Linked DNA regions of Homo sapiens. The protein of the gene in region 7 interacts with the protein of the main gene of each other region in a pairwise test. Each region holds a gene or a part of one and is shown on either strand. Other genes may lie near its edges. The genes, in order: P4HA3, OSTF1, SYTL4, ZSCAN5B, ASXL1, ZNF277 and ZBTB7B.

Region 1 (3,500 bases), on a different chromosome or scaffold from region 7:
TGGCTGAAGGACACTGTTGACCCAAAACTGGTGACCCTCAACCACCGCATTGCTGCCCTCACAGGCCTTGATGTCCGGCCTCCCTATGCAGAGTATCTGCAGGTGGTGAACTATGGCATCGGAGGACACTATGAGCCTCACTTTGACCATGCTACGGTAATGGTGGAGTCAATGACCAATCCCCTGGGGTAGGGAGCCAGGGCATTATTTATTTCTCTGAGGCAGAGCTCTTGTAGGCTCTCAGGGAATACTAAGTGAAATCTTAGAACAAAGGTTCTTTTTCCAGAAATATCTGAAAGCCTTAGTTTCAAGCATATTGTTGCTGACTCATTTTCTTGTCTGCCACCATCTCCCTTCTAAAATTTGCTGGTGAGGGAAGAATGTGGCTTGTCATGGAATCATCGGACTGCTCCACTCAGGGACTTCCTAGTGAGGATTGTCCTTCCTCCAGTAACTCTTCTAGCCTCATGATCTCAACTGGCCATCTTTGCTGATAATAGCAAATAATTTTTTTAAAATTTTAGATTCATGGGGTACATGTGCTTGTTTTTTATTTACGTATTTATTTATGTATTTATTTTTTTCTTTATAGGCAGCATCTTGCTCTGTTGCCCAGGCTGCAGTGTAGTGGCACCATCATAGCTCACTGCAGTCTTGAACTCCTGGGCTAAGTGATCCCCCCATCTCAGCCTCCCAAGTAGCTCTAGGACTACACCTGGCTAATTTAAAAAAATTTTTTTTGTAGAGACAAGGTCCTGCTATGTTGCCCAGGCTTGTCTTGAGCTCCTGGGCTCAAGCGATCCTCCCACCTCAGTCTCCCAAAGTGCTGACATTACAGGAGTGAGCCACTGCACCCAGCCATACTTGTTATATGGGTATTGCATGTGTAATGGTGGGGACCACACTTCTAGTGTACCCATCACCCAACTATTGAATGTTTTACCTGACACGTAATTTTTGAACTCTCACTCCCCTTTCACCCTCCCCCATTTTGCAGTTTCCAGTGTTTGTTACCTCCATCTTTATGTCCATGTGTACCCATTGTTTAGCCCCCACTTATAAGTGAGGACATGCAATATCTTATCTTCTGCTTTTGAGTTAGTTCACTTAGGATAATGGCCTCCAGCTCCATCCATGTTGCTGCAGAGGAAATTATTTCATTCTTTTTATGGCTGGATAGTATTCTGTTATGTATATATACCTTATTTTCTTTATCAAATCAACCATCGATGGACATTTAGGTTGGTTCCATGACTTTGCTGTTGTGAATAGTGCTGCAATAAATATCTGGGTGCAGGTGTTTTTTCTGTAATATAATACTTTATTTTCCTTTGGGTAGATACCCAGTAGTGATTTTTGAGGATTAAAATGACCTCCCCAAAATTGATCTATAAATTGAACCCCAGCTTTATAAAAATTCCAGGAGGTTTATTTTTGTAGAAATTAGCATGCTGATCCTAAAATGTATATGGAAATGCAAAAAACCTAGAGCAGCCAAAACAATTTTGAAAAAGAAGAACAAATTGGAGGACATACACTATCTGATCTCAAAACTTAATATAGAGCTACAGGAATCAAGGCAGTGTGGTACCAGTGTAAGGAGAGACACATATGTCAATGGAACAGAACAGAGTCCAGAAACAAACCAACACATTTATGATCAATTGGTTTTGACAAAGGTGCCAAGGAAATTCAATGAAGAAAATACAATCTTTTCAATAGACAGTATTGGAACAATTTAATATCTATCTGCAAAATAATAATGACTTTACACCCTTACCTTACACCATATATGAAAATTAACACAAAATGGGTCATAGATGTAAATGTAAAACTATAAAACTTCTAGAAGAAAACATAAGAGAAAATTTTTGTGACCACAGGTTAGGCAAAGATTTCTTAGATATGACACCAAAGTATGATCCATAAAAGAAGAAAACAACTGATAAATTGGACCTTATCAAATTAAAATTCTTTGCTTTTCAAAAAACATCATTAGAAAAGGAAAAGACAAGCCACCAACTAGGAGAAAATATTTGCAAATCATATATTTGGTAAAGAACTTGTATCCAAAATATCTATAGAACTTTTATAACTCAGTAATAAGATAATTCAATTTTTTTTAATGGACAGAAAGTTATTTGAGTAGGCACCTCTCCAAAAAGGATAAATGAATGGCTAAGAAACATATGGAAAGATGCTCAACATCATTAGGGAAATGCAAATTAAAACCACAATGAGATAGCACTGCACTCTCTTATGATGGCTACAATAAAATAAGATTATACCAAGTGGTGGTGAGGATGTGGAGGAACTGAAGCTCTCATACACTGCTAGTGGGAATGCAAAATTATACAGACACTTTGGAAAAAAGTTTGATGGTTTCTTAAAAAGTTTAAGATTCACCTACTTATGATCCAGCCATTTCACACCTATGTATATTACCCAAAAGAAAAAGAAAATATGTCTCTACAAACATTTGTACAGAAAAGTTTATAGTAGCTTTATTTGTAATAACCAAGAATTGGGGCTGGGCACGGTGGCTCATGCCTGTAATCCCAGCACTTTGGGAGGCCAAGGCAGGCGGATCACGAGGTCAGAAGATCGAGACCATCCTGGCTAACACAGTGAAACCCCGTCTCTACTAAAAATACAAAAAAAAAAAAAATTAGCTGGGCATGGTGGCAGGCGCCTGTAGTCCCAGCTACTTGGGAGGCTGAGGCAGGAGAATGGCATGAACCTGGGAGGCAGAGGTTGCAGTGAGCTGAGATCACGCCACTGCACTCCAGCCTGGGCAACAGAGTGAGACTCCATCTCAAAAACAAAAAAAAAAAAACAAAAAAAAAACCAAGAATTGGAAACAGCCCAGATGTCTGTCAACAGGTGAACGGATAAACAAATTTTGATATATCTGCACAATGGAATGCTATAGAGAGAAAGCAGATAAGTGGGTTGCCTGAGGTTGGAGGTGAGAGCAGGGATTGACTCCTAACTGGCATGAAGGAGCTTTTCAGCAGATGGAAGTGTTCTGTGTTCTAAACTTCAATTGTGGGAAAACTCATTGAACAGTAGGCTTACAAGGGGTGAATTTTATGGAATATAAATCATATCTCAAACTGTTCCATGACAAAAAAAAAAGAGTATGTCTCTTCAGCAAGTAATTGGAACTCTGGCCTTATGATTTGGTATTTCTACAGAATAATTGTCTGTAATATTTTATATATTAATTTCTATATTTCACAGAGAACTCAAAGGTGCAATTAACCCCTCATATAGTACTTTCACTACTGACAAGTAGTTCTGTTTGGTAGTAGACAATTCTTTTATATAAGTATCTAATAAATTAGTAAAAAAAAAAATTGTATTGAGTACCTGCCAGCAAAGACGGGCACATACTCCAGTAGGTGTATATCAGAACTATATCCCATCTTTGATGCCCCCATTTTACTTCTATTTGTATTAATAGTGGAATCCTGCCTGTCCCTCTGGTGCCATCTGCA
Region 2 (3,500 bases), on a different chromosome or scaffold from region 7:
ACCTTTCAAATCTTAGCGAAACTGTAATGAGTTGTTGGGTTTCTCCACTCTAAATACAACCTTGGAGATAAAAACTGGAAGTCTCACAATTATTAAATTTACCTATTTTATTAGACATGCACCTTCTCAATGATTATTGTCCTGACTTTGATCAAAGCTAACACAAGAAGTTGAACTAAAATGTGGCTCTCATTATTCTTCTGTGCTAATAAATATAAAATATAATTTAAAAAATAAAATCAGTTCTTACCTAAATATAAAAAGCTTTACTTACTTAACGACAATGAGTGATACCACAGAAACGGACAAAAGAAATAAAGTCTCTCAAAATGTTTATTTTTGTCAGAATAGCTGACAATTTTCTGTTAAGTATTTTGGTTTATTATTATAATAAGCATTTCCCCCCCTTGAAAAATCCATTCAAAATATCTCAACCATTGAGGTAAAGCATTTTAACTAAAAAAAAAAAAAAAAAAAAAATCCTAATTTGTTTTTAAAGAAAAAAAAAAATCTTAAAATTCCTTTTGCTTGATAAATAGAAATAATATCTTCTTGTTCTACTTTGGTGAACATAAATGTGCCAAGAATCCAGTCACTTACTGGCAAACCAAAGGTGGGAACAATTCATTTACACGTTCTACTCAAACACAGTGCAACACTGCCGTGTTCATATATAATTTTCTTTATAGTTACCAACACTTTTCTGGCAAAGACAAAGTTTTGGAATGGCAAAAGCAACAGAAGTTTTAGATCTCAAAGCTCCAGAAAGGAATTAATCTGAGTCTTCATCATCGAGATAGTCCTCGGCATTGCTTAATGTTCGAACTGCATCTGAAAGAAAGAGGAGGGAAAAAAGCAAAATAGGGAAATTATAAACTGCTCAGATTTTATTTTTTCATTTTCAAAGCTCTTAAATTAGAATAGAATCTTCCATCTGACCCAGGGATTGTACTTTCCCTGAGGATCTTTCTCTGCTTTTGCTTTTCAGCCTAACCATTAAGTTTCTGTTGCCACAGAGGCTGATGATGCGTTCCACAGTCATGCAGAAGTTTTGGTCCTAGGTGCCATGCATCCATTTCCAACAGAAAGGCCTAGCCACAGGCACCATGACCAACATGATACACCACCAGCAGCACTCCACTCTGACAACTGAGCTTCCAACCTCCTCTCCCAGTGACAGCCTGAGGTCTTGCCTAAAGGCAAAGTCACTAGGTAGGACGTTAACTACCGAAGGGGAAAAAGGAAAAGAAAGAATGAAAACAAAGAAGCTTCCATTTCAATGTAGAAAACACCGACAATAAAGCAAAAGGCTGAAATGGGGGGGAAAAGTTTTAAAATAGAGCTGGACCCCATCAAATGTTCAAGCAAACTTGAACAGGACTCAAAAGGAAGACATCTGATCTTTCACAGTCACCCCTTCAACTGTCTAGTCAAATTCCTATAGCAACAGATTAGCCCAAGTATAATTTTAGTGGGAAAAACAGAATGCAAACACAAGCACATTGTTGAAGTTCAATAAATATATGTCACAGCACCCAGATCTTCATGATCTCTAAGTATCACATCTCTGAAGCTTATTATACATATGACCGGTTCCAAGTATGGGGCAGGAAGTGTAAGGGATGGACCTAGAACCCTAGTCATGTCATAAAGCAAGCATCCTAACAAAGACAGCATCACGTGAAAGGGTCTGAGATTCAACTTAAAGAGGCCTCCACTAGCCAAAGATGGGCTATTGATAAAGCTACTAATTGGAATGGATTAAAGCACATTAAATATTTCAAGGCACACCAAAAAGAACTCATCTGTCACCCTTTGGAGGATGACAGAGACCAGCTTATTATTTTAAAACCTCTTAAATAAAGGTCAAAAATCAAGCATTTATCCTGCCCTTGCTACATTAACTGTTCCTCTGCGTAACAAAACAATTGATGAGGGAAAACTTTTCCTAATAGAATGTTCCAGCTAATAACTCAAAAAGAAGTGATTTAATTAGAATATCATCATTTTGTGCCGTTTAGTGAAGTAACAGATCTAGGCAACGATCATCAATGGATGTCACATCACAGGAAGAGTGACAACCAGGTATCATGTGCCCCTGATAAAAGAACACAATATTCTATATGATTTATTATTCCTTCTACTACCAAGAAAGATACATGATTAGGTAGGTAGGTAGATAGGTAGGTAGGTGAAGAGATGGATAGATTGAACCTAAATTGGATCAAACCTCTGGCTAGCTAGCTAGATTTGATACATAGCTAGGTAGGTAGGTAAGTAGGTAGGTAGGTAAGTAGATGGATAGAACCTAAATTAGATCAAACCGATAGATAGATTAGATAGATAGATAGGTAGATAGATAGATAGATAGATAGGCAGGCAGATACATGATTGATTCATGATTGATTGATTGATAGAATGAACCTAAATTGGATCAAACCTCTAAATCTAACACTAATTGACAAAAACATAAAGGACAGAGGAACATGACAAATAACACCATGGGAATGCAGTTAGCAATGTCCACAATGGGAAATTCAAGTGAGTTGACCCAGTTTCTTTAATAAATAAATTGCAAGGTTAAAAAGGGGGAAGAAGAGAGGGAAAGGAACTATTGCTTAAAAAATAAATAAAGAGACATATCTACCAATCACAAACTGACCTTATGTGAATCCTGACTTAAATAAACCATAAGTAAATAAATAAGTAAAAACAAAGATGTATGAGAAAATGGAAGTTTGGACAAGGACAAGATATTTGATGATATTAAGGAATATTAAGGAATTATTTTTTAGGTATGCTAATGCTCTTTTAAAAAAAAAAGTTTTCATGTTTACATGTTTTGGAAAATGATTATTGAGAAAAAGAAAAGAAGAAGGGATGATCAGTACAAGGGAGGTGGAAGCCGATTTATCTTGCAAGAGAGAGAAGGAAAGATAAAGCAGAACAGAGGCCAAGTCTCTTTTCTGGATCTCATTCTGTCACCCAGGCTGCAGTGCAGTGGTACAATCATGGCTCACTGCAGCCTTGACTTTCTGGACTCAAGTGATCCTCCCACCTCAGCCTCCCAAGTAGCTAAGACTACAGGCATGCAGCACCACACTCAGCTAGTTTTTAATTTTTTTTGTAAAGACGTCATCTCACTATGTTGTCCAGGCTAGTCTTGAACTCCCAGATGCAAGCAATCCTCCCTGCCTCCCAAAGTGCTGGGATTACAGGTGTGAGCCGCCACACCTGGCCATGTTTCACTGACTTCACACCAGCCTTCAAGCTACTGGAAGTCTCCAGGTTGACTCTATTCTTCTCCACTCTCCTCAAGAGGAGTTCACAAGAAGTGGGAGGAATATATTTTGTTCTCCCCCAACACACACCCAGGACCTTCAGGACTTCATGTCAACTTGGTAAAATGTAGCTTTCTAAGCTAAAGCCTGAGAGACAAATAGGAAAACTCTGTCCCCTTCTACTCCACTATCCTAAGTTTTGCCCATATTCTGTGTCCT
Region 3 (3,500 bases), on a different chromosome or scaffold from region 7:
CTGATTTTTGCTTTGAGATTGCATTCCTGATGCCAACTTTGACCTAGTTGGAAGTACTTCCTCTCTCTTACTTTTTTTTTTTTTTGAGGCAGAGTTTCGCTGTGTCGCCCAGGCTAGAGTACAGTGGCGCGATCTTGGCTCACTGCAAGCTCTGCCTCCTGGGTTCATGCCATTCTCCTGCCTCAGCCTCCCGAGTAGCTGGAACTACAGGCGCCCGCCACCATGCCCGGCTAGCTTTTTGTGTTTTTAGTAGAGACGGGATTTCACCGTGTTAGCCAGGATGGTCTCGATCTTCTGACCTCGTGATCTGCCCTCCTCGGCCTCCCAAAGTGCTGGGATTACAGGCGTGAGCCACCGCTCCTGGCCTCTCTATTTTTTAAAAGTATGAGTCTCTGGGTGGAAATCTCTAAAGTTTAAAAGTGGAAATGTAAAAATGTTGTGCTTCTTGTTGGTAGGAAGGGGGACTGCACTGGGAGGAAGGGGTGTGGATTGTCAGATGTCTTGAGGCTTTTCAGGCTTCTCGCAAGATCAATAAGAGGCTGGAGAAAGTTACTGTGCAATGGGGAAGTGAACAGCTCAAAAGAATAACGGATGGCACAAATTAGGCTTCTGGTTTCAAGTTACCCATAGCCTTTTAGGTATGAGGTGGTTATTGGATTATGGAACTTTATGGAAAAGCCGTAGCTGAGTGCTATTTGTGTTGTACTTAACTAGTTTTCTACCAGGATGACTGTGCAGTCTGGAGAAACCACTGTGTAACATAAAAGAAAAAAGTGCTATTCTGTTTAAAAGTGTTTTGAAATGTTCAGAAAGGAAGAGGCCAGAATCTCTTAGAAGACAGACTTGGAAGGAGTTGGGCCCTTCAAAAGGTGGTAAATATGTGATTCTCATCATTTAATATATGTTAACTTATTTGAAACTCAAATTTGTACAAAAAGCTGACCAGCTTCTTTTTCTACTAAATTTGTCTCCCCAGCCTTTGAACATTGCAGTGACCTGGGGTTCAGTCCCTGGACTTTTCTCCATCTAAAATCTTCACAGAGGCTCTCATCCAGCTGCATGGCTTTGAAGAACATCTGTCTAGACTGTTGTCACTCCCAAATTTATGTTTGTTACCCAGGCCTTTCTTCTAAGCTGCAGCCTCATATATCCAATGACCTATTTGACATCTCTGCTTGCCTATCAGATAGACCTCTCAAATGTAACGTGGCCAAAACGGCACTCCCGATTGCCCTTGTATTCCCACCCTCTTCCCTCAGCACTCCCTGTCTCAGTAAAATGTCACCATCATCCATTCAGTTGCTCAAACCAAGAACCTAAGATCACCCTTGATTCTTCTTTTTCTATCACTGCTCTCCACCCAATTTAATTCATGAGGGAGTCCTGCTGACCTGATCTTCAGACTGTATCATGTGTTCTGCCACACGTCTCCATCTCCTCTGCCTGTCACCCTAGTCCAAGCCACCACACGTCTGCCACAAACATTCTTGCATAATGCTCAAGGATATATATATACACAAGTATTTTTGTGGGATAGCTTTCTAATAGGAGAATTGTTAGGTCAAAGGACATATACATTAAACAATTTAAATAGGCATCACCAGAGTGACATCTAAGAGGGTTTACCCTTTCACCATTGCGAGTGGTTTTCCTCCTGCCCTTGCTGAGGATGGATGACGCTTTTAATTTTTTCCAATCTGATAGGTGAAAAATAGTATCTAACTGATTTAACTTGGCATTTCTCTGATCACTAGTGTGGCTGAGCATCTTTTCATTTGTGCTAGCTATTTGTATTTTTCCAAGACTTGCTCCTTTATATCCTTTGCACATTTATCTTTTGGGTTATATATTTGATTTGTTTGTAAGAACACTATATTTATTAGTTATATTTACCCATTGCCTATTATATAGTGCAAGTTTTTTTCTCTCTAGTCTGTCATATGTCATAACTTTGTTCATGATGTGTACCCCTCTCGTAATCAGATAAAACCCACTATAAAACATTTAAAAAACACGTTCATTAGATTTGGCAATTAGGAGGCCAATGACAACATCAGTGCAGCAGGAGGAGAGAAGGCAGATCGTAGAGGGTTGGGCAGTGAGGACTGAGAAGGACTGATAAAAAATATGGTAGATACACATGGACATGGAGAGTGGGATGATAGACAATGGAGACTCAGAAGGGTGAGGGGTGGGAGAAGGGTAGATGATGAGAAATTTCTTAATGGGTACAATGTATGTTATTCAGGTTATAGATACCCTAAAGTCTCTGACTTAACCACTGCATATGTAACAAAATTGCATGTGTACCCCATAAATTTATATAATTAAAAACATGTAGTATATACATTGAAGAAGCTTGGCTATGATGGGAAGGAGAGAGTGTTCCTTATAGACAGTAAGGCACAGGGGATAAAAAGGCTGTTTTATTTAATTTTGTTTTACTTTAAATATAAGAGATAGATGAGCCCATTTATGTGCAGATGGCATACAGCTTGATGATGCAAGGTCCCCGAGAAAGTCAGAGGGTGGGAGTGCCAGAGTGAAAGAGGAGAAAAGACTAGCCTTAGAGAAAAAGTGGTGGCTCTTCCATTGAAACAAGAGGATTCACCAATCCTCTTGGTAAAAACTATGGAGAAGGAAGTACCTGTGGAGGGACAGGATTTTGAGAGAGCCCCTCCGCCCCCAACAAGAGAGTGAAAGGTTCACCAGAGAGTAAAGAAGGCAAGAATGGTGAAGGGTTGGAATAGCATTTGAGAGAGACGAAAAGAGGAGTTCTTTAGGGGCATATCATCCAGGTTATGTATGTGTATTTCAAAATATCATGCTGTACACCATAAATAGACACAATTTTTGTCAAGTATACCTCCATAAAACTGGAAAAAAGTTTTAAAATGGCTTGGGTAACTTGAATTTGTCTCTGCCTCAAGTCGCAGAACCCTGTATCCATTCTGTCTGGCAGCACTCATCAGACCAGGAACAGAGTGTGGACAATCTAGTATGGGGAATTTTTTCCGGGTGGCCGTGACAGAAATAGGGAGAGGGCTGGAGATTGGATGGCCCTGGCAGAAGAATAGTTGAAATGATGGACCACTGTGGCTTTCATATTCATATCTGTGACTATCTAAACCTAACTTGACCTTGAGTAATTTTTAAGAAGTAGAAAATTTCCATGGCATCTACACTGCTTCTTGTTTGTAGCTCTATCGATTCAGGCATCAGAATACCATTAGTATCAGTGTCTTTAAACTCATCAGAAAGCGTGATTTGATTTACTGAGGGCCTATGTTGTGCCATGCTCTGTGTTGATTTACTGAGGATTTACGTTGCACCAACTGAGAGCCTACAGTCAGGATCCTACAATGTAGATTTATCCATCTATCCATCCATCAACCCAGCTAGATGCTTGAGGTATGGCTGAGAAGAAGGTAGACAATGGCCATTTTTCTCCTGGAACTTATTTCGGCAGGGGAAGTGTATATTAAATATTGTATCACATA
Region 4 (3,972 bases), on a different chromosome or scaffold from region 7:
ATTATCACCCAAGTTCAACAGCTATGAGAACACAGCCCTGCTTTCCTAGACACAGGTGGGGGAAGCAACCTGAAGGTCTGCAGAGGGGAGAAAAAACTGGCAGGAGGGTCTCAGGAAAGGTCACTGGAAGCCTGGAGGGCGAGTACCCCACACTTCCTGGAAGGACTCTGAGCAAGTGCAGAACAGAGAGACAGCCAGGGAGACAATCGGCAGAGGCGGGAGACAACCCAGAGGAGGAGACAATATTTACACACCACACATCTCACAGGGCTCCTGTGCAAAACATAAGCAACTCAAACTCCTCCAGAGCGAGAAAACACATAACCCACTAGAAGGGCTTAAGGCGCCTGTGTGGACATCTCAGATGAAGACATGTGAATGGCCAGCAGGTCTAGGAAAAGGTGCTCGTCATCACTCATCATCAGGGACATGCAAATCCAAACCACAAGGCACCCCTCACGCCTGCTAGAGTGGCTGTTCCCAAAAAGACACATGGAACGAGTGTTGGTGAGGATTCGGGGGAAAGGGGTCCTCTGCGCCCTGTGCTGGGATGTAAATTAGAGCAGCCGATATGGGAGACAGTATAGAAGCTCCTCAGAAAATTGAAAGTCCAACAACTGCATGAGCCGGCAATCCCGCTCCGGGGCAGGTACACAGAGGAAAGGAAATCAGGACGTGGACTCCAAAACAGTGAAGCTCTGAAGTGACAGACGGTGGGAAGGTGGAAAAACTACCTACTGGGTACTATCCTCATATCCTGGGTGACAGGTTCAGTGATACCCAAAACCTCAGCATCACTCAGTACACTCACGTAACAAATCTGCACAGGCACCCACCGAACCTAAAATAAAAGTGGAATTTTTTTTTAAAGTTATCTATTTTTGTTTTTAAACTTGCAGCAGTGTCTTGCTCTGTCACCCAGGCTGGAATGCAGTGGTGCATCCTGGCTTGCTGCAGCCTTGACTTCTTGGGTCCAAGTGATCCTCCTGCCTCTGCTTCCCAAAATTCTGGGATTACGTGTGAGCCACTATACCTGGCCTACTTAAAATTATTTTTATTTTTATTTCGTTTTATTGATTTATTTTTTGAGACAGAATCTCACTCTATCCCCCAGGCTGCAGTGCAGTGGCCGATCTGGGCTCACTGCCACCTCTGCCTCCCGGGTTCAAGCGATTCTCCTGCCTCAGCCTCCCGAGTAGCTGGGATTATAGGCGTGAGCCACCCCTCTCGGCTAAATTTTGTATTTTTAGTAGAGATGGGGTCTCGCCATGTAGGCCAGGCTGGTCTCAAACTCCTGAACTCAAGTGATCCCTATGCCTCGGCCTCCCAGAGTGCTGGGATTACAGGTGTGAGCCACCGCACCTGGCCATTAAAACTTTTTTTTAAAAAAATAAAAGAAATAAAGTTAAATAGGTCTACTGCACAGCATGGTGACTATAGTTCACAGCAATGTACCGTATACTTGGAAATTGCTAAGGGAGTCGATTTCAAGTGTTGTCCAAAAATGATAAGACAGTGAGGTAGAGCCTATGGCAGTTTGCTCGATTTAGCCGTTGCACAATGCGTACACACCTTGACACACTATGCTGTGCACCGGACATATACACCATTATATATTTATATTTCTCAATTTGAAAGTAAATTAGGCCTGGTGCGATGGCTCACTCCTGTCACCCCAGTGCTCTGGGAGGCGGAGGTGGCAGGATCACTTCAGCCCAGCAGTGAACCGCGATTGTGCCACTGTGCTCCAGCCTGGGAGACACATCCAGCGGCCATCTCGTTTTGTTTATTTATTAAGTAAATCGATACATTTTTTAAAAGCATACAGATATGAGAAAAGGCAGCCTGAAATTCTGGGAATTAAAGAGGTTTTCCCGCCAGGTTCCCTAAGCGCCCCTGCTCAGAAAGCGGAGATCGAGGCTGAGGCGGGCAGATTGCTTGAGCCGAGGAGTTCGAGACCAGACTGGGCAAAGCAGCGAGACCACGTCTCTATAGTAAATAAAAAAATGCACTCGGGCGGTGTGGTGGTGTGCTCCTGCAGCCCCAGCTAGGTGGAGGCCGAGGAGGGCACATAGCTTGAGCCTGGGAGTTCCAGGCCAGCCTGGGAAATGAGCGAGACCCCGTCTCTGAAAAATAAAATGAAACAAAACCTAACCATGATGAGAAAGTTAACATTATTACTTTATTTTTCTCCTTTTTTTTTTTTTGAGACGGAGTTTTGCTTTGTTACCCAGGCTGGAGTGCAATGGCGCGACCTCGGCTCACTGCAACCTCTGCCTCCTGGGTTCAAATGACTCTCCTGACTCAGTCTCCCGAATAGCGGGTATTACCCTAACCTCTGCCTCCTGGGTTCAAACGACTCTCCTGACTCAGTCTCCTGAATAGCGGGTATTACGGGCGCCCGCCACCACGCCCGGCTAATTTTTGTATTTTTGTTAGAGTCGGGGTTTCACCATGTTGGTCAGACTGGTCTTGAACTCCTGATCCCGTGATCTGCCCACCTCGGCCTCCAGAGTAGCTGGGATTACAGGCGTGCGCCACTGGGCCCGACCGAGAAAGTTAATATTATTCCTAGTTTACAGAAGCACTTCATCGCCAGTCAGAGTTAATCATGGGGTGCAAAGGAGACCCGCTGCCTTCACAAAGTCTCCGAGAAAATAAATGCATGAGAAAATAAACCCAAACTTTCTGAAACCAACCCCCCGCATGCCAGCTCCGAAACCCCACAGCCATCGCCGCTGGACACTCACCTCCTTCCCGGCTTCTGCCTCCGACCTTCTCGGTCTGGGATGCGCTCTCCAACCGGCCTGGAGCTGAACTGCGTCTATTTATGGAGAAGCGGGACTCCAGGCCGCGTTTCCGGTTCCCTGCGCCGCGCCGTGATTGGTTTAGGGCCACAGAGTCCATTTTCGTAATCGGCGTTGATTACATTTCCCACTGAAACCCCACCCACAGGAAATTAATGTATTAAACGTGCCTACTGTGCAAATAATACAGGTTTTCCCGCTCTACTGAGTTGTCATATTGCTGAAGTATGTGGAGGCCTCAGAAAATATAGATCTGCAAGTTTTAACCACTTTGGGTCCCCTCATGCCACAGACAGTAATATCCTAACAAGTAAAGGACGTGTTAAGAGCTGGTTGACTTCGCTTATTAAAACAAAACGGAAAAAGAAAAAAAAAAGAAAAATTCAAAATAGAGTTGGTTGATTAATATCAAACCAGTGATTTAATCTCATTTTTAATCTCATTTGAGCGAAGCTTTCACACGCGAATTCCAAGATGTTGAAAATTGTGGACACTCGTTGATATGTAATGAATGTTTGTGATAATTTTTTACTTTTTTATTTTTTTCAAAATCTTGGAATTGGCATGTGAAAGCTTTGTTCAAACTAAACTAAATCACTGATTTGATATCAGCCTTATATAAAAGCAGTGGGAACCAGAGAAAGGCACATGGTCCCCACTCTGCATTCATTCCAGGACGGTGATAGGGTGGTTTATAGATACACTGAGGGTCCTACGGGGTTCCCTAGTTCTCAGCCCCCTCAGTTAGGGCTCTCAAGCAAGAAAAGCCTTAACGGTGGGTGTGAATTTTACTGTGTGGATCATGGAGTTAATGTGGAATGATAATTAAGTGCTAGGCAGGATTAGATTACAATTTGGGAAGTTCACACCATCAGTTGGATGACACTAATCCATTCAAGTAGTGACTCATTCATTTTAATTTCAGAGGAAACCTTCTCGTCTAACCTTTAGGACAAATTGGAGGGCTGTTAATTTTACACTGATTCTGGTTTAAATCCTTGGAAAATCTTAAGCCGCTTCACTCTGGGAACTTCAAACTTCTTGTGACTAGAACCTTCCTGATGTGTTGTTTTGAAGATGCAATAAGACTGGGTCAATAAAGTGCTCGATACAAGGTCATTTTGCCAAACAGTTGTGACAATTATTTTCTGGTGCATTTTCTCAT
Region 5 (3,500 bases), on a different chromosome or scaffold from region 7:
AGCAGGGCCTTGATTCCTGCTCCTTAGCACTCCACCCTCCCCAGAACTAACATGGTATAGCTTATAGGAGGCACCCTATAAATGTTTAATGAATGTTTGAATGCAAAAGTGTATCTAACTTTCTTAATGATATATTTATGAAAAGAACTTGCTGAGAAAAAGGTCAGTTAGAAAGGGTTAGGAACTTGTCAGTATTCTAAATCCCTCTTTTTCAAAAGCATACACATTTAGGAATGACTGCCTTGCTTTAAGAATTTGTAGGGTTTTGTTCACCTGAGTTGTACCTTGCTGTCACAGAAGGATGCCCTGCAGTGGTCTCGCCATCCAGCTACAGTGGAGGGAGAGGAGCCAGAGGACACGGCTGATGTGGAGAGCTGTGGGTCTAATGAAGCCAGCACTGTGAGTGGTGAAAACGATGGTAAGGACCCTTTAATGGATGGGTGAGGGAGCCACAGCAGGCACTAGGGACTAACCTTTATTTTCCTCTCTTCCAGTATCTCTTGATGAAACATCTTCGAACGCATCCTGTTCTACAGAATCTCAGAGTCGACCTCTTTCCAATCCCAGGGACAGCTACAGAGCTTCCTCACAGGTAAGGAAGAGGTAGAGCCTAGCCTGGGAGGATGAATGATGACAGGTATAAGGCAAGATCCCTCCTTCTCCTGTAGTGAGCTGTGAACATGTTCAGAGAGTGAAGAATAGAAGTCTGGTCTCCAGCTGTTAGTAGCATTTAACAGGGGGCCGCAGGAAAAGTGAACAGTAGGTTTGAGCAGAGTAAGTTTTTTCTCTTTCTTTACCTTGGCTGAGTGATTTTGTTCATTCTTTTTTTTTTTTTTTTTTTTTTTTTTTGAGATGGAGTCGCGCCTGTCGCTCAGGCTGGAGTGCAGTGGCATGATCTCCGCTTACTGCAACCTCTGCCTCTGGGGTTCAAGCAATTCTCCTGCCTCAGCCTCCCGAGTAGCTGGGATTACAGGCACGTACCACCGTGCCTGGCTAATATTTGTATTTTTAGTAGAGATAGGGTTTTGCCATGTTGGCCAGGCTAGTCTCGAATTCCTGACCTCAAGTGGTCTGTCCACCTCAGCCTCCCAAAGTGCTGGGATTACAGGTGTGAGTCACCATGCCTAGCCTGATTCTGTTCATTCTTGTAATATACACGTGAACATTCAGGGAGAAGTGTGGTTAGTGCAGAGTAGAGAGAACAGGAGATTGGGAGTGAGCAGTTTGAATGATAACCCTGCACTTACTAGCCTTGAGACTTGGGGAAAATTCCTTACCTGTAAAATGGGGATAACAGTACATTTTTGTAGCTTGGAATGATGCTTGGCACAGTGACCAGCACGTAGCTCAGTAACATTAACCAGTGCTCTTGTCAGCATTATTTGACAGATCTGGTTGAAGACGAACTTCATTTTACAAGAGCGTGAGTAGAGATAGTGTCGCCAGGGAATGCTTTTGTGGCTCTGCAGTTGACTTGGGCTCTCTTTTGTTCTCTCTTGGAACGCAGGCGAACAAACAAAAGAAAAAGACTGGGGTGATGCTGCCTCGAGTTGTCCTGACTCCTCTGAAGGTAAACGGGGCCCACGTGGAATCTGCATCAGGTATGTGTAAACTCATGGTTGTGATGCTTTTTCCTCAGGTCCTGGGGACCTGGCCTCCCTCTGTCAGCAGTTTCTGACCTAATAGTGCGATACTAGGAGAGCTGTCGGGCCACAGGCAAGAGCCCTGCCAATGGATGAGGCCTGCCATAGGTTCTAGTGCTGGGCTCTGCTGTGTGCCTTCCTCTTTGTCTCCCAGGGCAGTCGTGAGGATCCAACGGAGGATTTGATTATGCCAGTGCTTTGTAAAAGGTGTAGTGCTATACAAATAAAGATGGCAGTTTGGCACCTGTAAGGTGATATTTTAAAGCCAGACCATGAAGTGGTGGTTTCTCTCAGCCTAAGGCTGGGAGATGGAAGCATCCCAGTATTGCTGGCAGCATCTCAGGGAGAGCTGGGAGAAATGAGCTTGTCTGAGAGCCATGGGCGCGGCTTGGTGATACTTTTGACCAGTGGAATGCTGTGCCTTCAGGGTTCTCGGGCTGCCACGCCGATGGCGAGAGCGGCAGCCCGTCCAGCAGCAGCAGCGGCTCTCTGGCCCTGGGCAGCGCTGCTATTCGTGGCCAGGCCGAGGTCACCCAGGACCCTGCCCCGCTCCTGAGAGGCTTCCGGAAGCCAGCCACAGGTGAGTGGCGTGGCACTTATTTCTCTGCCTGTAAAGGGGGCCCCTGCAGGCCTAGTGAGAAGATGATGTCTTCTATTCCAATTCCTTTACCAGTTTATTTTTACTTCTTGGGTGGCCCTCTATTTTTTGTTTATTTTTACTTTGTAATTTGCTTATTTCATTTGTAGCTCTCTGCTAAACTGTGAGAACTCCTTTCAGGCAGAGATGATGCCATACTGTTTCTCGTATGTCCCTGTAGGCCTAGTCTATGCCTGCCTTGTACTGCATAGTAAGTGTTTGAGTGAGTGAAAACTGCTTCTGAGCTTCTCAGTGAAGAATTCCAACACCCCTTTTCTCTCTTCGGTAGCATGTTGCCACATTTGTTCCCAACATCTGTAGTCTGTATCAGACGCTCCCTTTTTTACAACCTAGTCAGTATGTTGAGTGGAAGCATGTGTTGAATTTTGGGGATGCAAACAAATTCAGTAGTGCTATTATCTATACCTCCCACCCCTCACCCCACCCCACCCCCATTAGGGTTATTTGCAATATTAGTATGCTCTTTGCTATTTCAGGATTTAATTCTTAATGACCCACATGCTGGTTTTTTTTGTAGATGAAACCATTAAGAAGACAAGCTTTTGCTTCTGAGAATTAGAGTAAACCTTTGCCCATGTGAGAACTAGGTTTGCTGTCTTGCTGCTTTTCCAGCTCATCAGCAGTGCTCAATCTAAGGTCTCACAGGTCTCTAGTCCTAGTGAGTTTTTCAGATAAAAGTAACATTTGCTGAGGCTTCTGTGAGAGGTATTAGCATCTCAGTTGGCTTTGAACAGTCCTTAGTACATTTCTGCATGGAGATCATCCCTCTCCAGCCCATTCACAGAAGGCTTCTGCAGATTTTTCTATAGTATACTAACTAGATTTACTTTTAGATAATTCTCATGATTTCTCCAGTTGAGCTTTGTGGAGCCTGTTCTCCAGCTTTGGAGGGAAGCTCAGAACCTGCCCCTTGCCTGATTTTCTGTGGGAAGTGTCCTTTTCAGGCTGTGACACAGCACGGTACAGAGTTTTGTCTGAGGAGATGCAACCCCAAGTGTTCTCCTGGGTTTGATGGCAATGACAGTAACCTGGAAAGAATATACAGGTTAGGATGGACTGGACAATTGAGCAGATTGTGTGCAGATAACTCCTGGGTAGCTTGGGTGCTGTCACCAAAGTTTTCCCATCAGTTGGCATTTGTTTTTTCTTTTAAAAAGCTGAAATCTATACCTTGCTTCAAAAATCATAGGTCAAATGAA
Region 6 (3,500 bases), on a different chromosome or scaffold from region 7:
TCAAAGCATACAGTTTAGATGTATCTTCACTGATGATGGGAACATTTTCATTTTGTTCCTGAGCTGTCAGGTCACTTTCACTGTCAGATAGTGTACACAGGAGAGTGTCATTTTCATAGGTTGGAAAATAATACCTGAAAACAACCACAGATACATAGTATTAAATTACCAAGCTAATACAGTGTCCAGGTAGCTGAATGTACACATTTACTATAATTTTGTCAGGTATCCTTGCCAACAATTTCATAGCATTTTGCAAAGGCTATACTGGAGACAACTTCTGATTGCTTTCACTTTGACTTTTACTGGCTGACATCAACCTTACCAAATCTACTATCCAGATTTGGTAAACCAAGATCGTGGACCTCCCACCCTCCAGAGTTGCCTCTGGAGTTGTCCGCTGGCCACTTAGCCTCTGCTTGATCATCTATCATGATAACAAAACACACTATCTTCGAAGGTAGCTGACCCCAGTAGTGGGTAGATCTAGTTGTTTGATACACCTCCTGTGAAGCTAAAAATGACATCTTTCTCATTTCTACTCAAAGGTCCTAGTTCTTCCTTATAAGTTAACAAACTTCAAATATAGTTAATTTTTCAAACACAAATTATTCAAATAATTGAGAATAATAAGCTCTTCCTTGTGTTTTGTTTTCCAGCCTAATAGTTCCTTCTTTCTAGGTAATCACAAAAGGAAACACTTACGGAATATAAAGTTTGTTATTCTGGTTCCTTCTCTGAATACATTTTGAAGTTACTTTTGGAATATTACAAATTTTAATTTATATAAGAAGGATCATAAAAACAGGGTACCCTCACAAGTGTGGGATTTTCTGAAGGAGAAAAACTAGAACTTTCTGGTTAAAGTTCTGGGGGAACTGACTTAACATTCCCTAAGAACAGAAGGAGCTCTGGGCAGCTAGAACCCCACAGTCTCTCAGAGGAGCCCTCGACTGAGGTTATCCAGAACGATGTGAGAACCAGTCCAGAAGGTTCTTGGCAAAGGATACTTGGGAACCAGTCCACAAAGTTCTGGCAAAGGATACATGGGAATCCAACAACAGATGACCAACTGCTTAATTTTTTCAAGTGCCAATATACAAAATATATACAAAAAGTCCTAGCAGTGTGCAAACTCTGACATAGTAATTTTATTTCTAGGAGTTCAGCTTAATTAAATAATTAGATAAGTGTGCTAAAATGTAGGCATATAGATTCACTGTATCATTATAATAGCAAAAAGTAAGAAACAACCTAAGTATCTCGCAGAATAGATTATATCCATACAATGGATATTTAGCAACCATTAGAAAGGATGCAACAGATGGATACTGGCTATTGAAAGATATTTACAATATTTTGTTAATAAAATATAATTTAAAAAATCTGTATCTACTTCATCTCTCTACATATGTATCTATCTCCATATCACAAATACTGAAAAATACTTGGTTTCATTTGTAAGAGGGGGATTATTTTAAAAATAAGCATTTTGAATATTTTTACATTTTTCCCCACACTGTACTGATGTATACTTTTTATAATAAATATGTATTCCTTTTTTTTCTGTAGGCTTAAAGAAATTAAATAAAGGGACAAAATCAAAGAGTTGGAGTAAGAAGTGCACATTTGGTTTTGCAGTACGTACTCCAGTTGATCCCACGTCTTTCTATCGGGGAGCAGCGAAGTGTGTTTAGTTTCTTCCATGTGAGTTCTTAAGTCTGCTTTGGATTTGAACTTCACATGGCAGCCATAACATCTGCATTGGTGAACTTGCCTCCGAATAAAATTGACCAGTTTCACTTGCTGATAGAAATTTAATCCTGAAAATGACAAAATACAGAATCATTAGACAACTGTTCAGACCCATTTTTTGCACTATTATAATTTCTTAAAGGAGCCACTTATTTTTATTAATCAACCTGAAGAGGCAGTACAATTATAAAGCATAATAATAGATACCAAATAATAACAGCACATATTTACACAGGGCTTATGAGCTAGGCACTATTCTAATAATTTTCCATGTATTAATACATTTAATCTTCATAAAACCCTATCAGATAGGTAGTATCATACCTACATTACATATTAGGAAACTGCCTAGCATCGCATAGATAGCTGTCAGCTGCAAAGCCCATGCTTGACTACTAAGCTAATTATATAAACAATGTATATATATGTCTATAAAAGCAGCAAAGTAACACATCCAAGGACCTAGGAAAGCAGTGACTGAGCTGAGCTGTGAGAAGTAAGTTTTTTACTGTCTTAGATCTATTAGCAAGTCAGTACTTTACGTATGTCTTAATGCCCCAAATCGTTCTATTGTTGTGATACTTAGAATGATACATTGGGTACACCTATAACAAACAATCCTAGCTATACTGCTAAGCAGTGCAGTAGCCATTTACCATACATTATTCACTCCTCATAACATTTTTCTGACCTGAGGCCCAATGTCATAGCCAGTAAGTGCCAGAGCTGGAATCTGAACTCTAGTTTGACTTAAAAATCCATATTCCACTAGCCCCCTCCAATTTATGATATATTATTAACCACTAACTTATATTTCACTTGAAGCACTCATATATGTAGGAAAGAGAAAGAAGGAGTATATGAAACCAAAAACCATATTTGACTATTATGGTTGAGCATCACTGCTTCACAGAGAGTTCTGTCAAGACCATCTATAGAGAGACATGTTTTGGTGGTGCACTCTCCAATCATAGCTACTGAACATAGGCATAGCTTACAGGATGGTTTATAAAAAATGAAGCATCACAGAAAAAAACCTCTGAATCAAACTTACCAAGTTCTGACTTTATTTTGAGAAGATCAAATTCGTGTGCATCCTAAAAAAGGAATGAATACATCTGTAAGCATATGAATTATTTAATCTTTCAGGCTGAAGTTATAAACAACTTATTCACAGGAGTTTGAGTAGTTTAGAAACTCAGTCTGAGTTCGGTATCTTCTGCTTTTGAAGTCTTCCAAGTCTAACTACTTCCCTCCATACCCAACTTTTTTACAGCATAGTCCAAACAAGTCATGTCAATCAGTTAAACCATTATAATTGGGCCGGGCGCGGTGGCTCACGCCTATAATCCCAGCACTTTGGGAGACCGAGGTGGGCGGATCACCCGAGGTCAGGAGTTTGAGACCAGCCTGGCCAACATGGCAAAACCCCGTCTCTACTAAAAATACAAAAATTGGCTGGGTGTGGTGGTGGGTGCCTGTAATCCCAGCTACTCAGAAGGCTGAGGCACGAGAATCGCTTGAACCTAGCAGGCAGAGGTTGCAGTGAGCTGAGATCGTGACACTGCACTCCAGCCTGGGTGACACAGCGAGACTCCATATCAAAGAACAGCAACAACATTATAATTGCTCATAGCTTATATCTATAGTTTTTATAATTTACAATGTTATCCATTTTGTAGCCTTCTAAAAATGTAGAAGTCTATGTATGCATTCTGCAGTGTGATAAAAGTGTAGGTAAGATA
Region 7 (3,500 bases):
CCCAGCCCCAGAGGACACCCCAGCCCGATCTCCGGAGCCCGGCTCTCTGCCAGCCTGTCCAGCCTCCTGGCCTGGCCCAGCAATCACTCAGTCCCTATAGGCCCCTCTTCTGCCTCTCCTGATCTGCTCGGGTCCCCTTAAACACTGAGGCCTCCCCACATTCCCGCTTCTCAAGCCCTCAGTTCCCTAAACTCTCTTGTGAAGTCTGGGCACCCTCTTCCTGACCTGTTTTTCAGTCCTCTGACCCTTGGCTAATTCTAGGCCTCCAAGCCCCCCTGGGGCCTGATCTCCCAAGCCAGAGCAGGGCCTACTCACCTGAACGCTGAGGGGCCTGGCGGCAACTCCTCCTGGCCCCTGGGGGCAGCAGGTTGGGACAGGTGGGGGAGGGCCAGGCTTGGGGGGAGGTAGGGTGGCTGTTCCCCGCTCCAGCTCCCTCCTTCAAAGGGGCCGCCCACGACCTGGCCCAGCCCCTCCCCCCTACAGCCTTAACCCTCTGGGTGCTGTCCCCCCTCCCCCCAGCTTGGAGGGAGGGGTTACCGGAGGGCTGGCGGCGTGGGAGAGGGCCCAGAGTCTCTGCCTGTGGTGCCTGAAGCCCCAGCAGAACCCACCCACTCCTGTCCTTACTCAGTCCTAAAAGAGGAAAAAGGTGAGGGGTAGGAAAGGTAGGAGCTGGGACAGTCCAGGAGGACAGAGATGAGGAGGAGCAATGGGAGAGGCTACTGGAGGTGGGACCAGGAGAAGGAAGAAGGGAGGGGAGGGGACGGAGGCAGCTGTGGCTAGAAGAGGGAGGAGGGGAACCCTGGACAGTCAGTGCCAGGGGTGACAGGTGCCTGGGTCCCAGCCCCTCAGAGTATGTGGGATGGGGACCACAAGGAAGCCCTCTAGACCCCAGCAAGCTCCTCAGTCCCCCTGGGAGCTGGCCGAATTCTCCCTACCCTGTACTGGGCTGGGGCCCTCAGGGGCTGGGCAAGGCGGCACCCCGCCCTCCCCATAGCCTCACCCCAAACCCACTCACATACCACAGTTCCTTGCCCGGGTGCCAACCCCTGCCAACCAGGCCAGGGGGCAGCACTCATGCCAGCCCCCAATAGCCAGGGGGATCAGGGGGAACAGAGCTGGCCTGAGGGGGATAGACAGATTGGGGGAGCTGTGGGCACCGAAAGAGGAAGGAGCTGGGAGGGGGCATCTGCTGGGAAGCGCCTAGCCCCACCCCTTGCGCAAGCTGCTGCCACCCTGGCCGGTTGGGTGGGACCCGCCTGGGCCTGAGGGGCAACTCAGGAGAGCTCTGAGCCCAGACATGGATGGGCCACCAAATTTCACTTAAACAACTCCTGGGGTCCCTTATTCCTGGAATGAGGGGTGCCCTAGTGACCCCCAGACACTAGGCCATCCCAAATCCTGCTAGGCTTGGGGGTACCATAGAAATGCCCCCTAAAATATCCCCTCCCCTTTCCCCCAACAGCTGCTGGCTCAATGCCGCTGGCCTGCTGCCCCTCACCAGCTCCCGGCCCGGTTGGCACCTACCCACCAGGATGCTGGCAGTCCTGCCCTCCTCTCCCTCCTACCCCCCTGCTCCCAGCGCCCCATGCCAACTGTGGGCCTGAGGTGGGGGAGGGTCACCCTGTGCCTTGGTGCCAGCCAGACGGGCCCAGGCCCCTAGGCCTTACAGATAAGGCCTAAGACCCTGTTCTCAAACCACCTCCTCAAGAGGTAGCACACTGGTCAGGGCCTACACAGAGAGAGCCTAGGAGGCAATGGACAGCCCTGTGAGTAGTTAATGAAGGCTCCACACCCCAGGGTGGGGGCCAGTGTCTCTCCCTACCACCAGGTGCCAACCTCCCGGCATTCCCCCTGCCCAAGCATTTGCTTGGGCACCAAAGTCCCTGCAATTCCTGAGAGCCCTAGTGCCTGCAGCCTGCAAGGGAGTGGGGTGGGGCTGCTCTCTGCCCTTTGATCCCCATAAAGGGAGGGAACCAGCCTAGAGGGCAGGGGGCAGGGAGGGAGTTCATGGGGCCCCTCTGTTTCACCCCTGCCAGGGGCAGCAGGGCAGGGTGTGGGCATCTTTTGGGTGGGGCCCTAAGGTGAGGACAGGTAGCATGTCTCAGCAAGGGAGATGGATGTCAATCATAGGTACACAGCATCCCATGGCAATGCGATAGCAAGAATAAAGTGGGGGGATGCAGAGGGTACCCACATTCCAACCCATCCCAGTTCTGACTTTCACCTTCATCCAGAAACACTTCCAGACTCAGCCAAATTGAGAGCTCAAGGACTACAACTCCCAGTGTGCACCACAATTGCTTTGTATGTACCTTGGGAGTTGTAGTCCCCCTTGAGAAGCTCTGGGTTCTCCTCTTCCCCAGAGCCTTGCTGATGGGTGAGAAGGGCAGATGACTTGGTCATGAATCTCCAAGGGGGCTAGGTTTAAGAAGAGGTAAAAGGCTAGGATGTCCATGGTGGAGGAAAGAGGACCCCTGCTCCCAGGCAAAGGGGGAGGAAAGGAGGAAGGAAGGAGGAGAGGATGTCTGTTGAAAGGGGCATATGGGTGGGGAGGAGTTGGGGGGACGGTGGAAACAGGAAGGAAACTGAAGCCAGAGACATGAGGTCGAAAGTAAGGGCCTGGGGGAGCCCCACTCTGAGGCCTGTCAGGGACTGGGATGGCATTTCCCCATGTCATTCTGTTGGCCTGGGAGGAAGAAGAGGATCAGTGATGTCAAAAGATAGCAAATTGACATATTTATGGGGGATCACTGTTTCATTTGCCTGCCATCAGCCCTCTTTTGCCTGGGGCACCTTCGACCCCTGAATCTGGCACAGGTATTTGCTGACTGGGAAGCTCTGAAGGCTGACCTGGTTCTGGGGAAGATAGCAGGCAAAGGAAGGGGTTTGGGGAGATCAGGGCTAGGCCTGATGGTGAATATGGTAGAGGTATATGTGGGGTTAGGCCCAGGTGTGGTCAGGGCAAGTGCTGGCAAATGAGAATGCTATCCTCCATAGCAGAACCATGGCATCTGGAGGCCTCAGGGAAGAGAGGGCTAAGATGTCCATCCCAAACTATGGGACAGGATGAAGAGGGCAGCCCTCTCTGGTCTCCCTGGGGAATTTGTTAAAGGTAGCTTTGTCCCTGTGCCAGTGAATATTAAAGATGGCAACTCAGGGGGCCAGGTGGTAGCTGGGTGCCTTTCCCTAGTAGAGGTGGAAGTCAGAAGTGGGCAGAGGACCTGCTTTGAAGCCACTTTTCCTGGGCTCCCCAGGGCTCTGGGACAGATGCTGGCAGGCCCCAGCCAAGACTCTTGCCAAGACCTAGGCCTGGCTGGGTGTGGGGGTCTTTCTTGTCCCCACCCCACCAAACACTTGATGGTGGATGACAGCAGCTCTATCCCCTTCCTCCCAGTCCCCCGGGCCCGCCTTGGCGCCTGGCCGCTTCTGTGTTGGCAAGAGTGGGGGGGAGGGGGCAGCGAGGCAACTTCAAACTGTCCGGGCAAAACGTCAAGTTTACT

Evidence for each region.
Region 1: the proteins of ZBTB7B (region 7) and P4HA3 interact in binary tests that used the Homo sapiens proteins (3 or more experiments, as listed by UniProt).
Region 2: the proteins of ZBTB7B (region 7) and OSTF1 interact in a two-hybrid assay, tested with the Homo sapiens proteins (one large-scale study listed by BioGRID).
Region 3: the proteins of ZBTB7B (region 7) and SYTL4 interact in binary tests that used the Homo sapiens proteins (3 or more experiments, as listed by UniProt).
Region 4: the proteins of ZBTB7B (region 7) and ZSCAN5B interact in binary tests that used the Homo sapiens proteins (3 or more experiments, as listed by UniProt).
Region 5: the proteins of ZBTB7B (region 7) and ASXL1 interact in a two-hybrid assay, tested with the Homo sapiens proteins (one large-scale study listed by BioGRID).
Region 6: the proteins of ZBTB7B (region 7) and ZNF277 interact in a two-hybrid assay, tested with the Homo sapiens proteins (one large-scale study listed by BioGRID and IntAct).

What each region holds. Positions count from the first base shown.
Region 1 is NC_000011.10:74,273,641-74,277,140, reverse strand, and holds part of P4HA3 (prolyl 4-hydroxylase subunit alpha-3 isoform 1 precursor), read left to right. Parts: coding exon 1-156; intron 157-3,500. UniProt on the Homo sapiens protein: Catalyzes the post-translational formation of 4-hydroxyproline in -Xaa-Pro-Gly- sequences in collagens and other proteins.
Region 2 is NC_000009.12:75,144,014-75,147,513, reverse strand, and holds the end of OSTF1 (osteoclast-stimulating factor 1), read right to left. Parts: intron 832-3,500; coding exon 773-831; 3' UTR 249-772; downstream 1-248.
Region 3 is NC_000023.11:100,725,622-100,729,121, reverse strand, and holds part of SYTL4 (synaptotagmin-like protein 4), read left to right. Parts: intron 1-3,500. UniProt on the Homo sapiens protein: Modulates exocytosis of dense-core granules and secretion of hormones in the pancreas and the pituitary. Interacts with vesicles containing negatively charged phospholipids in a Ca(2+)-independent manner.
Region 4 is NC_000019.10:56,194,984-56,198,955, forward strand, and holds the start of ZSCAN5B (zinc finger and SCAN domain-containing protein 5B), read right to left. Parts: upstream 2,801-3,972; 5' UTR 2,751-2,800; intron 1-2,750. UniProt on the Homo sapiens protein: May be involved in transcriptional regulation.
Region 5 is NC_000020.11:32,427,831-32,431,330, forward strand, and holds part of ASXL1 (polycomb group protein ASXL1), read left to right. Parts: intron 1-297; coding exon 298-418; intron 419-494; coding exon 495-592; intron 593-1,507; coding exon 1,508-1,601; exon of another isoform or gene 1,602-2,070; coding exon 2,071-2,223; exon of another isoform or gene 2,224-3,312; coding exon of another isoform or gene 3,313-3,346; intron 3,347-3,490; coding exon 3,491-3,500.
Region 6 is NC_000007.14:112,339,195-112,342,694, reverse strand, and holds part of ZNF277 (zinc finger protein 277), read right to left. Parts: intron 2,853-3,500; coding exon 2,810-2,852; intron 1,824-2,809; coding exon 1,649-1,823; intron 1,641-1,648; exon of another isoform or gene 1,573-1,640; intron 135-1,572; coding exon 1-134. UniProt on the Homo sapiens protein: Probable transcription factor. Involved in modulation of cellular senescence; represses transcription of the tumor suppressor gene INK4A/ARF, perhaps acting via the Polycomb group (PcG) complex PRC1.
Region 7 is NC_000001.11:155,005,802-155,009,301, reverse strand, and holds part of ZBTB7B (zinc finger and BTB domain-containing protein 7B), read right to left. Parts: intron 1,166-3,500; exon of another isoform or gene 1,077-1,165; coding exon of another isoform or gene 1,020-1,076; intron 709-1,019; exon of another isoform or gene 355-708; coding exon of another isoform or gene 316-354; intron 1-315. UniProt on the Homo sapiens protein: Transcription regulator that acts as a key regulator of lineage commitment of immature T-cell precursors. Exerts distinct biological functions in the mammary epithelial cells and T cells in a tissue-specific manner.